Linked DNA regions of Homo sapiens: region 2 is linked to region 1. The links come from fine-mapping of genetic effects on gene expression. A gene starts in region 1. The other region holds a variant in brackets. All regions are shown on one strand. Distances are between the middles of the regions.

What was found. PIP is the estimated chance that this variant, and not a neighbour inherited with it, causes the effect.
Region 2: its variant is the best candidate, but not a certain one, in a credible set for the expression of LEF1-AS1 in whole blood (TOPMed, PIP 0.79).

The regions. Positions count from the first base shown.
Region 1 is chr4:108,165,344-108,170,717 of GRCh38, reverse strand. LEF1-AS1 (LEF1 antisense RNA 1) reads right to left here and starts at 3,193. Exons shown (of 3, transcript NR_029374.1): 1 at 2,885-3,193. It overlaps LEF1 (lymphoid enhancer binding factor 1), which reads left to right and starts at 1,786. Exons shown (of 12, transcript NM_016269.5): 1 at 1,786-3,163. The coding sequence starts at 2,951. It overlaps LOC124900752, which reads right to left and starts at 2,779. Exons shown (of 2, transcript XM_047416528.1): 1 at 1,816-2,779; 2 at 1-1,608. The coding sequence starts at 2,218. The coding sequence ends at 1,022. RefSeq lists enhancers at 1-26, 2,097-2,186, 3,214-3,715 and silencers at 1,787-1,836, 3,593-3,832.
Region 2 is chr4:108,235,875-108,241,248 of GRCh38, reverse strand. No RefSeq gene overlaps it. Among named protein-coding and RNA genes, the nearest start is that of LEF1, 70 kb to the right of the region's middle. The variant C/T (reference allele first, on the strand shown) is at 3,184.

The DNA of each region.
Region 1 (5,374 bases):
TGGGACACTACTCACACTGGTGCCTAACTTTAAGGGAAGTGACATACCACCATCATCCAAAAACAAAAATTGGGTTTCTCACACACTGTAGCAGAATATACTCTTTTTCTTCTCTTGAGGCATAGCATTGTCAGCTATTAAAAATGGATTTAATGTTTTAATTTTCCTGGATTCCTTCACCAACCCCTTAATTTCACCCCAATCTTCCAGATAGAATTTACATGTGACTACTGGCCATGTTGTAGGGACCAATTGGATCCTTTGTAAAGTTTTAAAAATTGCTTCCTAGTAAATTCTTATTCCCAAGAAGTAGTCGTTATTAGTAGGTGAAGTCATTAGTGCTCACTTAGATACAGCATTGTAAAAATCTTTACCCATTCAATGTTCAGCAGCCTGAAATTTCACCTTTAGGAAAAAAAGAGGGATCTTTGCCAGACAATTCCTATATAATGGAGCAAAATCTGATTCTGTAGTGTTTTGCTTGTTTTCGATTTAAGGGAGATGAAGATACATTTCTTTATGTCCTTTGTTTACTGTTCTGAAGTTTTACAGATGGTTACTGTATTGGATATAATAATTTTGCCTAGATTTTTAACTGAGGGGGTTTGAGAACCAAGGGACAAAATGTAATGTGTTTTCAAACTTCAGCTTCCCTTCTGCTGTAACTTTCACAAAGTATCTCCTGAAAACTCCTGTCTTTGTACAAAATTCATCAAAGAGACAGTGGAGACTGGGGAATTTTTGAGGTTGTATTCGGATTGGTGTCTTCAAGGGTCCCTTTCAGTTCGCAGTCCAAGGTGCCAGGGACTACCCCGTCCTCCCTCCCTCTTCTGGCTTTGCTCTCCTGAGTCCTTTTGCCTTCTCTTCCCCCTTCTTGGATTATCTTTTCATTCTCGATGAGGTTCCCACACACTGCGGTGTGTGTCTCTGAAAACCCACTGGAGACCTAGCACAACTCTCCGTACATCCCGTGGTGAGAACAGAATGAAAGATATATTGTTTAAAAAGCAATAATTAAAATCTAGTCTTCAGTTCCTTCTTCCTCGTCATATTTTTTCTCCGTAAGCCTAGAGATTTTATTTTCACTAGTGTGTTCCCTTGTCTCCAAAGAGCGTGTGTGTGATATTATATTCGGGAAAGCTACAACTCTCTTTTCCTTGTCCTTCTGTTCTCTCTTAATAGTTGAGCAATGTCTGTTATATTTTCCCCTTTTCCTTTTTTTCTCAGTCCCAGATTCCCGCCTCTCCCCACTGTCAGAGCATCTATCAATGTGGTGTCCATCACAGCGGCAGCGGCTTTCTCTTTCATCTTCCTCCCTCTGCCAGAGCCAGGGAGGGAGAGTGGGAGGCGTCAAGGAGGTAGGGGAGAGACTGGCAGAGGAAAAGGAGTGGGTGGGTGGGGGCCAAGTAAATAGATACTTAGATGATGAAGTCAAGCCACTGCGGCAATGTTTCTTGTCAGTTTCACGCGGGCAAAGCGTGCCTTTCGGTGGGTTATAAGCAGCGCCCGGTCCTTCCTTCTCTCGCCAAGTTGCCTGATCCTTCCCTCCAGGCGCGCGCGCACACACCACACTCACACACCCCAAAACCAAGACTCGTCCTACAGGATCTGGGAAAAGAAAAAGAAAAAAAAGCCCTCAATCACCACCTCCTTCTCGCCGACTCCCCCTCACCCCCCGCCTCCCCTCCAGCGGGCAGCCAAGGAGAGCTAGAGGCGGGGGAGGGGAGAGGGAGGAGAAGCGACGCAAGTGGGTAGCTTTTCAGCGCCGGCGAGGCGCGGGAGGAGGAGAAGCAGTGGGGAGGCGCAGCCGCTCACCTGCGGGGCAGGGCGCGGAGGAGGGACCCGGGCTGCGCGCTCTCGGGCCGAGGAACCAGGACGCGCCCGGAGCCTCGCACGCGGCCAAGCTCGGGGCGTCCCCTCCCCTCGGCCGGGCGAACTCAAGGGGCGCAGCTCTTTGCTTTGACAGAGCTGGCCGGCGGAGGCGTGCAGAGCGGCGAGCCGGCGAGCCAGGCTGAGAAACTCGAGCCGGGAACAAAGAGGGGTCGGACTGAGTGTGTGTGTCGGCTCGAGCTCCGGGCAGAGGCATTTGGGCCCGAGGCCCCCGCTGTGACTCCCCGAGACTCCGCAGTGCCCTCCACTGCGGAGTCCCCGCGCTTGCCGGCAAAAACTTTATTCTTGGCAAACTTCTCTTTCTCTTCCCCTCCTCCTCGGCCCCCATCTTCTGCTCCTCCTCCTTCTCTAGCAGATTAAATGAGCCTCGAGAAGAAAAACCGAAGCGAAAGGGAAGAAAATAAGAAGATCTAAAACGGACATCTCCAGCGTGGGTGGCTCCTTTTTCTTTTTCTTTTTTTCCCACCCTTCAGGAAGTGGACGTTTCGTTATCTTCTGATCCTTGCACCTTCTTTTGGGGCAAACGGGGCCCTTCTGCCCAGATCCCCTCTCTTTTCTCGGAAAACAAACTACTAAGTCGGCATCCGGGGTAACTACAGTGGAGAGGGTTTCCGCGGAGACGCGCCGCCGGACCCTCCTCTGCACTTTGGGGAGGCGTGCTCCCTCCAGAACCGGCGTTCTCCGCGCGCAAATCCCGGCGACGCGGGGTCGCGGGGTGGCCGCCGGGGCAGCCTCGTCTAGCGCGCGCCGCGCAGACGCCCCCGGAGTCGCCAGCTACCGCAGCCCTCGCCGCCCAGTGCCCTTCGGCCTCGGGGGCGGGCGCCTGCGTCGGTCTCCGCGAAGCGGGAAAGCGCGGCGGCCGCCGGGATTCGGGCGCCGCGGCAGCTGCTCCGGCTGCCGGCCGGCGGCCCCGCGCTCGCCCGCCCCGCTTCCGCCCGCTGTCCTGCTGCACGAACCCTTCCAACTCTCCTTTCCTCCCCCACCCTTGAGTTACCCCTCTGTCTTTCCTGCTGTTGCGCGGGTGCTCCCACAGCGGAGCGGAGATTACAGAGCCGCCGGGATGCCCCAACTCTCCGGAGGAGGTGGCGGCGGCGGGGGGGACCCGGAACTCTGCGCCACGGACGAGATGATCCCCTTCAAGGACGAGGGCGATCCTCAGAAGGAAAAGATCTTCGCCGAGATCAGTCATCCCGAAGAGGAAGGCGATTTAGCTGACATCAAGTCTTCCTTGGTGAACGAGTCTGAAATCATCCCGGCCAGCAACGGACACGAGGTGAGCGGGCCGCTGCCCCAGTTCCGAGAGGCGTGGCGGGTCCCTGGGAAACTCAGAGAGGGAGGAAGGGAACGAAGGCGCCCGGCCGCCCGGCTGAGGGTCCCGAGTAGATCCCTCGTTTGTTTTGGGGTGTGTGCGTAGCTGGGCCCCCGGTCCGCAGTGTGTGTGTGTGTGTGTGTGTGTGTGTGTGTGTGTGTGTGTGTAGGATGGGAGGTAGAGGGGCAGGGTAACTTATTCCAAATGGATCAGTTTAGGGGGTTCGGTGGCTGAACGGTTGGTTCGCGGGCAGGAACCCACAATGTTTCGCCTTCGGTCTTTTTGTTGGGCTGAGGGGTGCCGTGCTTTAAAGCGAGTAGGGCTGAATAACGCTACTGATAAATTCTTCCGTGGGACGGAAAACAAAGTGCACACGCTATCTCTTGGTAGATGTCTCTGCAAAAGTGCGTTAAACCACCAAAGGCTTAGGTGGAGACGAGCAGAGCCACAGGCGGGAGGAAGGGGAGGCGGGCGTGGGCTGGGGCAGGCGGGGCCGTCCCTACCACCGGTGAGCCGGGCCGCGGGGAGCAGGCCGGCCGATGGGGCGCGCACCCGGGCTGCGGGGGCGGTGCGGGGTTCAGTCCCTGCGGCCCCAGCGCCTGGGCTAGCAGCTGGGAGCTGTGGGTGCGCCGAGCCGACCCACCGCAAGGGTACACCCTGGCTGTACCGCCCCCAACTCTAGTTTTCTCCAACCGCCATCACTTGGAAACAAACCCACAACTTTTATTTGGGGTTTGGGACCGGATCAGGCCTTAAATCTACGCAGAAGAAAGGCGGAGAAGCAGCGGAAGCCGGGCACTAGTCCTGCAGGGTGGAAGGCGCTTTATCGGGTCTTCTGGCCCGCTGCGGGCGATAGAGCTGGTAACCTGAGTAGAGTAAATAGAGACACGTGGGTGCTGGCTAGAGAAAGCGCGGAGCAGGGCCGCGCTGGAGGGCTGTTTGAAGCCTAGTCCAGAGCTGGTCTAGGGGGCGGATGGACCCTGATACCCGACACTCCACTGGTCACCCTTGTTCCACAACTGGGAAACCCTCTGGAGGAAATCCGGTAGAAAAGTCCTGACACCCGAATGATTTAACCAACGCCTTTTCCCTCCAAAGAAACTTGGAGGATATACCTTTTTTTCCTTAAATGGCATCTTTCTACCCCCAAAAAGAAAGTGTGTGGTTTTGAGGGCGGGGACATTTTGGGTTTTAAACAGCGCGTTTAAGAACACCTCAGATCTGCCTTCTCTATCCCAATGGCAGAGGTGAGTACGAATTTTGAAAGGCTGGGGGCCTGCGTTCAGAGAACAGAATGGTGTTCTTTACCCGTTGAATCCAGTTTGAGCGGGCTGGGGGCGGGGGTAGGGTGCACCTAACCCCGCGTAAAAGATTTGTGACTACTGTGTGCTGGGAAAAGGAGGTCAAAGGGAGGACACACGTCCAGAGAACCGAATAACATCCAAAACACAGGCTTTTTGCCAAACTCTCCTATTTGTAGAGCAGCCTCTCTTTCTACCCATTTTGCTAGTCCTGCCTTAGTCCATAAATAATTTTGCCACCCACTTCATATTCTCCACAATTTTCTGGTCCGGGTGAAGGACACTGCGTTCGAATCCGAGAGCACTCGGGTGTTAAGTGGGCATGAGGAGGCCTGAGGGTGAAGGAGTAATACCACTGATTTGCACGTGTTTGAGGCTGTCTGGGTGGATGGTGATTACCAAAACTGATATCAACTGGGCTACCTTTTAGATGTCTATAACCTGACTCTCTAATTTTCCTCCCTTTAACCACAGAATCGTTCTACTTTTGTAAGCCTGCACTCAGCCAGCCATAGTAGGTTATAAGCTCGAGTGGAGCTTCTGCTGTAACTGCGCTCAGGGCAGTTGCCTTAAGACCGCATCTGAGTGGTTGGCTTGTTTATGTTTAAATGCCATTTTCAGTTGCAAAATGATATTTCAGCCTTCTTTTAATCAGATCTGATTGAAGTGAACAGTGGTTGAAGAGGCTATCGAAACCATCAACCCCATTAACTCCTACTCCTGTAATATTAGGCATCCAAGGAGCCTTGATATGGTTTAATAAACAGCAGTCAGAACAGCATGTGGATCATTCCCAAATTTAACTATATTTTTATTGGTTTTGTTATTATTTATACGTTTTTGGTCCCGGGTGGATAATAATCACTCAAAAATA
Region 2 (5,374 bases), 71 kb before region 1:
CTATTAATTCTACTAGCCCAAGCTCTCTAGCGTTATTCACCTTAACAATTCCTAAACCTGGGTCTTCATCTATACTCAAGTTTCCTCCTAAGGTACTAACCATTACTGGAGACACTAAAATTTTTTTTAATCTTTAAAAGCTGAATAGCTCCACTAAAATTCATATATCCAATTTCATCCTTCCCCTTTTCCTACTCAACAGTTTTTTTAACTCAATAATTCTCAGTCACATTCCCTACAAAGCCAATTCTACATAATTCCCTTTCTTCAAATCCTCCTACCACCTTGCCTCAGGTCAAGATATAGCTCTTTCAACTTCCCCAGTTTCTCCTCAAAATATCTTTAAATTTTTGTCCATTTCTCTTCTTTCCTTCCCAGCACAGAGAATGGTTCCCGCTTTCCATACCTTATCCATCCCATTCCCCTTGAGCATCCCTATCAGCTATCAGTCCACAGGACTGTTCCCTTTCTCCTTCTCCACTGAGTCTTCCCTCTCAGCCAATAAGCAAGCTCAAACCTCCCTTCCTATCCTAGAAGAGCACTCTCTTCATCATACTACTCCTTAAGCTATCATGCATTCTCTCTTCTTCTCTTCACTGCCAACTTCTTAAAAGAAATCTACTCTGCTGAATTCTACTTCCTGACCACCCACTCCTGCCTCATGGTTTTGCAATCTGGCTTCCAGCCTTGTGGTCTAGTAACAGTGCTTTAGCATGACCACTGAGGAAAATACAGGATACTAGAAGGATCACTTGAAACCAAGGTTGAAATAGAACAGAGTTAGGCCTTGTCAGTGGAATTCTTACAAGAATTAACCAACACCCAATTCTCACAGTGCTGTGTTGTTGATTTTAAAAGGAAAAAAGTGTTCTTAATTATTTTTCTGAAAGAGGAAGAAACTCCAGGATGTAAATTACAAATCATATGGCTCTTTTTCCTCTTCCCTCCAATACCCTAGAGCATAACGACAATATATGATGATTTATATAACTATCTTGATTTATAATGAGTAACACAGTACTCTTTTACTTGTTAAGGTAGTTCCCAGGAATGGTAACATGGTTTGGCTCTGTGTCCCCACCCAAATCTCATCTTGTAACTCTCATTATTCCCATGTGTTGTGGGAGGGACTCAGTGGAAGATGATTGAATCATGGGGGTGGGTCTTTCCTGTGCTGTTCTCGTGATAGTGAATGGGACTCATGAGACTGGATGGTTTTAAAAACAGGAGTTTCTCTCCTCTCTCTTTGCCTGTTGCCATCCTCGTAAGATGTGACTTGCTTCTTCTTGCCTTCCACCATGATTGTGAGGCCTCCTCAGCCATGTGGAACTGTAAGTCCAATAAACCTCTTTCTTCTGTAAATTGCCCAGTCTTGGGTACGTCTTTATCAGCAGTGTGAAAATGGACTAATACAAATGGTAATGAGTTAATTTAACGAATAGTTCCACTAAGCCAGGAAAATAAATAATTAAAATTTGGAAAAACATATCTAACGTGAAGATATAATACGTTGATCATCTCTAGCCCTTGCAAACAAGGACCAAGATACACATCCTTCTAACTAAGAATAAAATTCAATATTAATTTTCTGTTTTAGTGAGTTTAGGGAGGTTTGTACATGTAGCTGGTTCCATCCAAGCCTTTACTGTGACTCACTTTCACTAGGATTCTGCTGACAATTACCTCTAATGCATTCTTGTCTTGCAAAGTGTATCATTACTCCTGCCTTGACATATCTATCTTAGTGTCATCATCAATTAACCCCATGCTTGCCAGTTTCACAATATAGGATGCTTTATAATTATTATAATGACATTCAATCATAATATAAGAATCAACTGAACCTTCAGAACACTGAGGGTGTGGGCTGTTTGCCTGGTATCCCCATGTTTTAGACAACTAAGGACTTTTTTATTTTTGCCTTCTTCTCTATGCCTCATGCTACGTAGGTTGATATCTGAAAGCATCTACAGAGTGAGTCTTTCTGTCACTTTAAACAAATTTCAAAAGCATTGATGTATAATTATTTTAGAAAAAAAGGTGAGAAGAAGGTATGATTTGGAGAGTGTTAATACTCATAATCCTTGGTTCATAGATTTTATATTTTAGAGTGCTCCTTCTATGGGTACTTTCTTTCTTCTTTTTTCTTTTCTTTTTTTTTTTTTTTTTTTGAGATAGAGTTTTGCTCTTGTTGCCCAGGCTGGAGTACAATGGCGCCAGCTCAGCTCACTGCAACCTCTGCCTCCCAGGTTCAAGTGATTCTCCTGCCTCAGCCTCCCGAGTAGCTGGGATTATAGGCATGCGTCCCATGCCCAGCTAGAGATGGGGTTTCACCATGTTGGTCAGGCTGGTTTTGAACTCCTGACCTCAGGTGATCCACCTGCCTCGGCCCCCCAAGGTGCTGGGATTACAGGCACGAGCCACTGTGCCCAGCCTATGGGTACATTTTTAAGTAGAAGGAGCTCATTGGCAGGGCGCGGTGGCTCATGGCTGTAATCCCAGCACTTTGGGAGGCCAAGATGGGCAGATCACGAGGTCAGGAGTTTCAGACCAGCCTGGCCAACAAAGTGAAACCCAGTCTCTACTAAGAATACAAAAAAAAATTAGCCAGGTGTGGTGGCAGCTGCCTGCAGCCCCAGCTACTTGGGAGGCTGAGGCAGGAGAATAGCTTGAACCCAGGAGGCAGAGGTTGCAGTGAGCTGAGATCACGCCACTGCACTCCAGCCTGGGTGACAGAGTGAGACTCCATAAAAAAAAAAAAAAAAAGGTAGAAGGAGCTCATTACAGTGACTATTCACCATCATATAATTAAGCAGGAAATAGGGCTGAATGCTATTTGCCAGTACCTAAAAAACACAAGAGAAAGACAGCCAAGTTACATGGAGGCTATCCCCTCTACTGTAAGATCATGAAAGTAGAAAAGTACAGATAGCCAGAACTATCTCTTAGTTTCAATAATCTAAGAATACACAGTTGAGAAATTCTGCTTACTTTTATGTTTCACCAAGAGTATATTCAGTTAAGAAACTTAATTGTTAACTATGGAACAATAATGCACCTTTCCATGGCTATTTTCTGGCAAGTAAAGTCAGAAGCCTAAGGTAAAACTCCTCTACACCATAATTAAAGCTGGAATACATCTTATCCTTTGTCCAGCACAGCTTACTTATGCAATGTCATTCA[C/T]ATACCAAAGGGAATTCTACTTGCAATGAAATACAAGCCACAGGGACACTATAGAAATTTCCCACAATTATTTGTTCCAAAGTAAATACATTTCCTTTGATTTTGACAAAACCATAAAACACAGAAGTGTATTGTGAGCCTCTATTTAGCTGTATGTTTACCAATACCCTGGAGGCTTTACTCTTTGAAACACAACTAAATTACATCATGCTATTTCATCTCTCTTCACTTGGCATGCATATATGTTATATCTAACAAACATCAGCAGGGCAAAACAATGAACTAATTCATGAATCAAGATTCTGTTTTATAGTTCACTTGTGAGGGATAATCGTGACTTAGCTTAAATGATATTCCATGCCTTGATTAAGGTTTCAAACTATGAACGTGTTGACTGAGCCTGGGTCCCTGATATAACACACAGAAAACATAGAACATTCATATTATCTTTGCTGAAGGACCCTAAAGGTTTTAGCTCATATACGGCATATGAACAAACAACTCAGTATACAGAAGACTGCCATCCTAAATTTTATCACTGCTTGGCCATAACAACAGTAACTCTGTTTTCACTGAACTTTGTTTTCTCTTCCAATTAAAAAGGCTTCCAAATGTTCGAGTCTCTGTAACTCAGGCTTCCACAATCAGATAATTACTTCAAGGGAGCACTTTGTCTTCAATTTAGATGGCCACCTTTTTTTCTCTCTTCATCTATTTTATTAGATAGTGGGTTAGATGAGATTATAAAAATAGCACTAAATGTTCACAAATCACATAACTGAAGAAGTCTCACTACTTTATAGTTTCTATTTGTGGTTACCCTTTTATTTATTTATTCATTCAGTAAATACTGAGCATCTAAAATACACCAGGCACTAACATTTCAAGAAACAATACAGAAGGACCTCGGAGTTCCATGCCCTCCTTTATTGTGGTTTGTTCACGTCCATTCTCATGAGCACATCTTAGCTTTATTACCACCTGGAATTGGGCCATTCTGAACTCATAAATGCAAACTACATCTTCCTATCTGTGATTCTCTTCTTTTCCTTTGCTCTTTATAAACCTATCCTTTCATAGCACTGACACCTTTAGTTCCTCATCACTTGGATGTCTCCACACATACCTGGGTTCAGACACCAGCTCACTTAGAGCCCAAAGTTATTAGTAGTTAATCACTCTATCAACACTCTAGCCAGTAGGCTTCTTTCTGGCCTCCTTTGTCATCTCACTGCCTTCACCATAACCATCCCTAGCTCAGGTCAACCAAGCTGGACCCACAGAAGCTGCAGTGGAATGGCATGGCCCCAAACAAAGTCCTGGCCCTTGGAGTCAGTCTGTGGTTTGTAGCTGCTTCTGTCACTTGCCAGCTATGTGACTTATATTAAGTGATTAACCTCCATAAGCCTCAGTTTCTTCATCCAAATGAGGGAGATAATGACACCTTCATCACAGGCTTCTTGCAAAGAATATAGAACAGGCAACTGAAGCATGTAGCATAGATCCTTGCATATAGCAGGCATGAATAAATAGCAATTAGCATTATTTTTCCTACATCTTGTTCAGGACTGCTTTCTGGAGAAAATTGCATATTCATGTTGCTGGGCTCCATTATAAATTTATGAGCTCCAATCTCAGCTGGGCCCTCAAGGGTTTCTCATCTGCTCCATTTCCATTCTCCATACAAGCTGTTCCAAACCTTTACTACTTTCCTCAAGGGTCCTCCCAGCTCCCTGCTTCCCTCACTCTCAGCAGGTGGCCTAACCTCCCCCTTCCCTGAGATAACAGGTGTCTGTGAGCAAGTACAACTTCCCCTTCGGTCCTGACTTCTCCAATCAGCTCTATATTCACACCTCTTCTTCCACTTCATGATTCTCTCAGACAAGAGGTATCCCTGCTCATTTGATCATTACCTAAATGATTCAGGAAGTATTTATTGGGAAGTATTTATTGACTGTATATCAGGCCACAGCTGGGTGCAAGCCTGCCTTCAAACAACTATACTGTAAAGGATGAGACAGATCAGTAAACAAATAGGAACTAAACAGTGGGACTCCTGCTCCAATTGATGTAAAAACAGGTACTAGCCAAGACTTAGAAGGTCAGCCAGGACAGCTTCCCATGGGAGACTGCATCTGAGCGAAAAGCTGAAGGAATAATAGCAGCCAGGTTGTGGGGAAGGGGAGGAAGT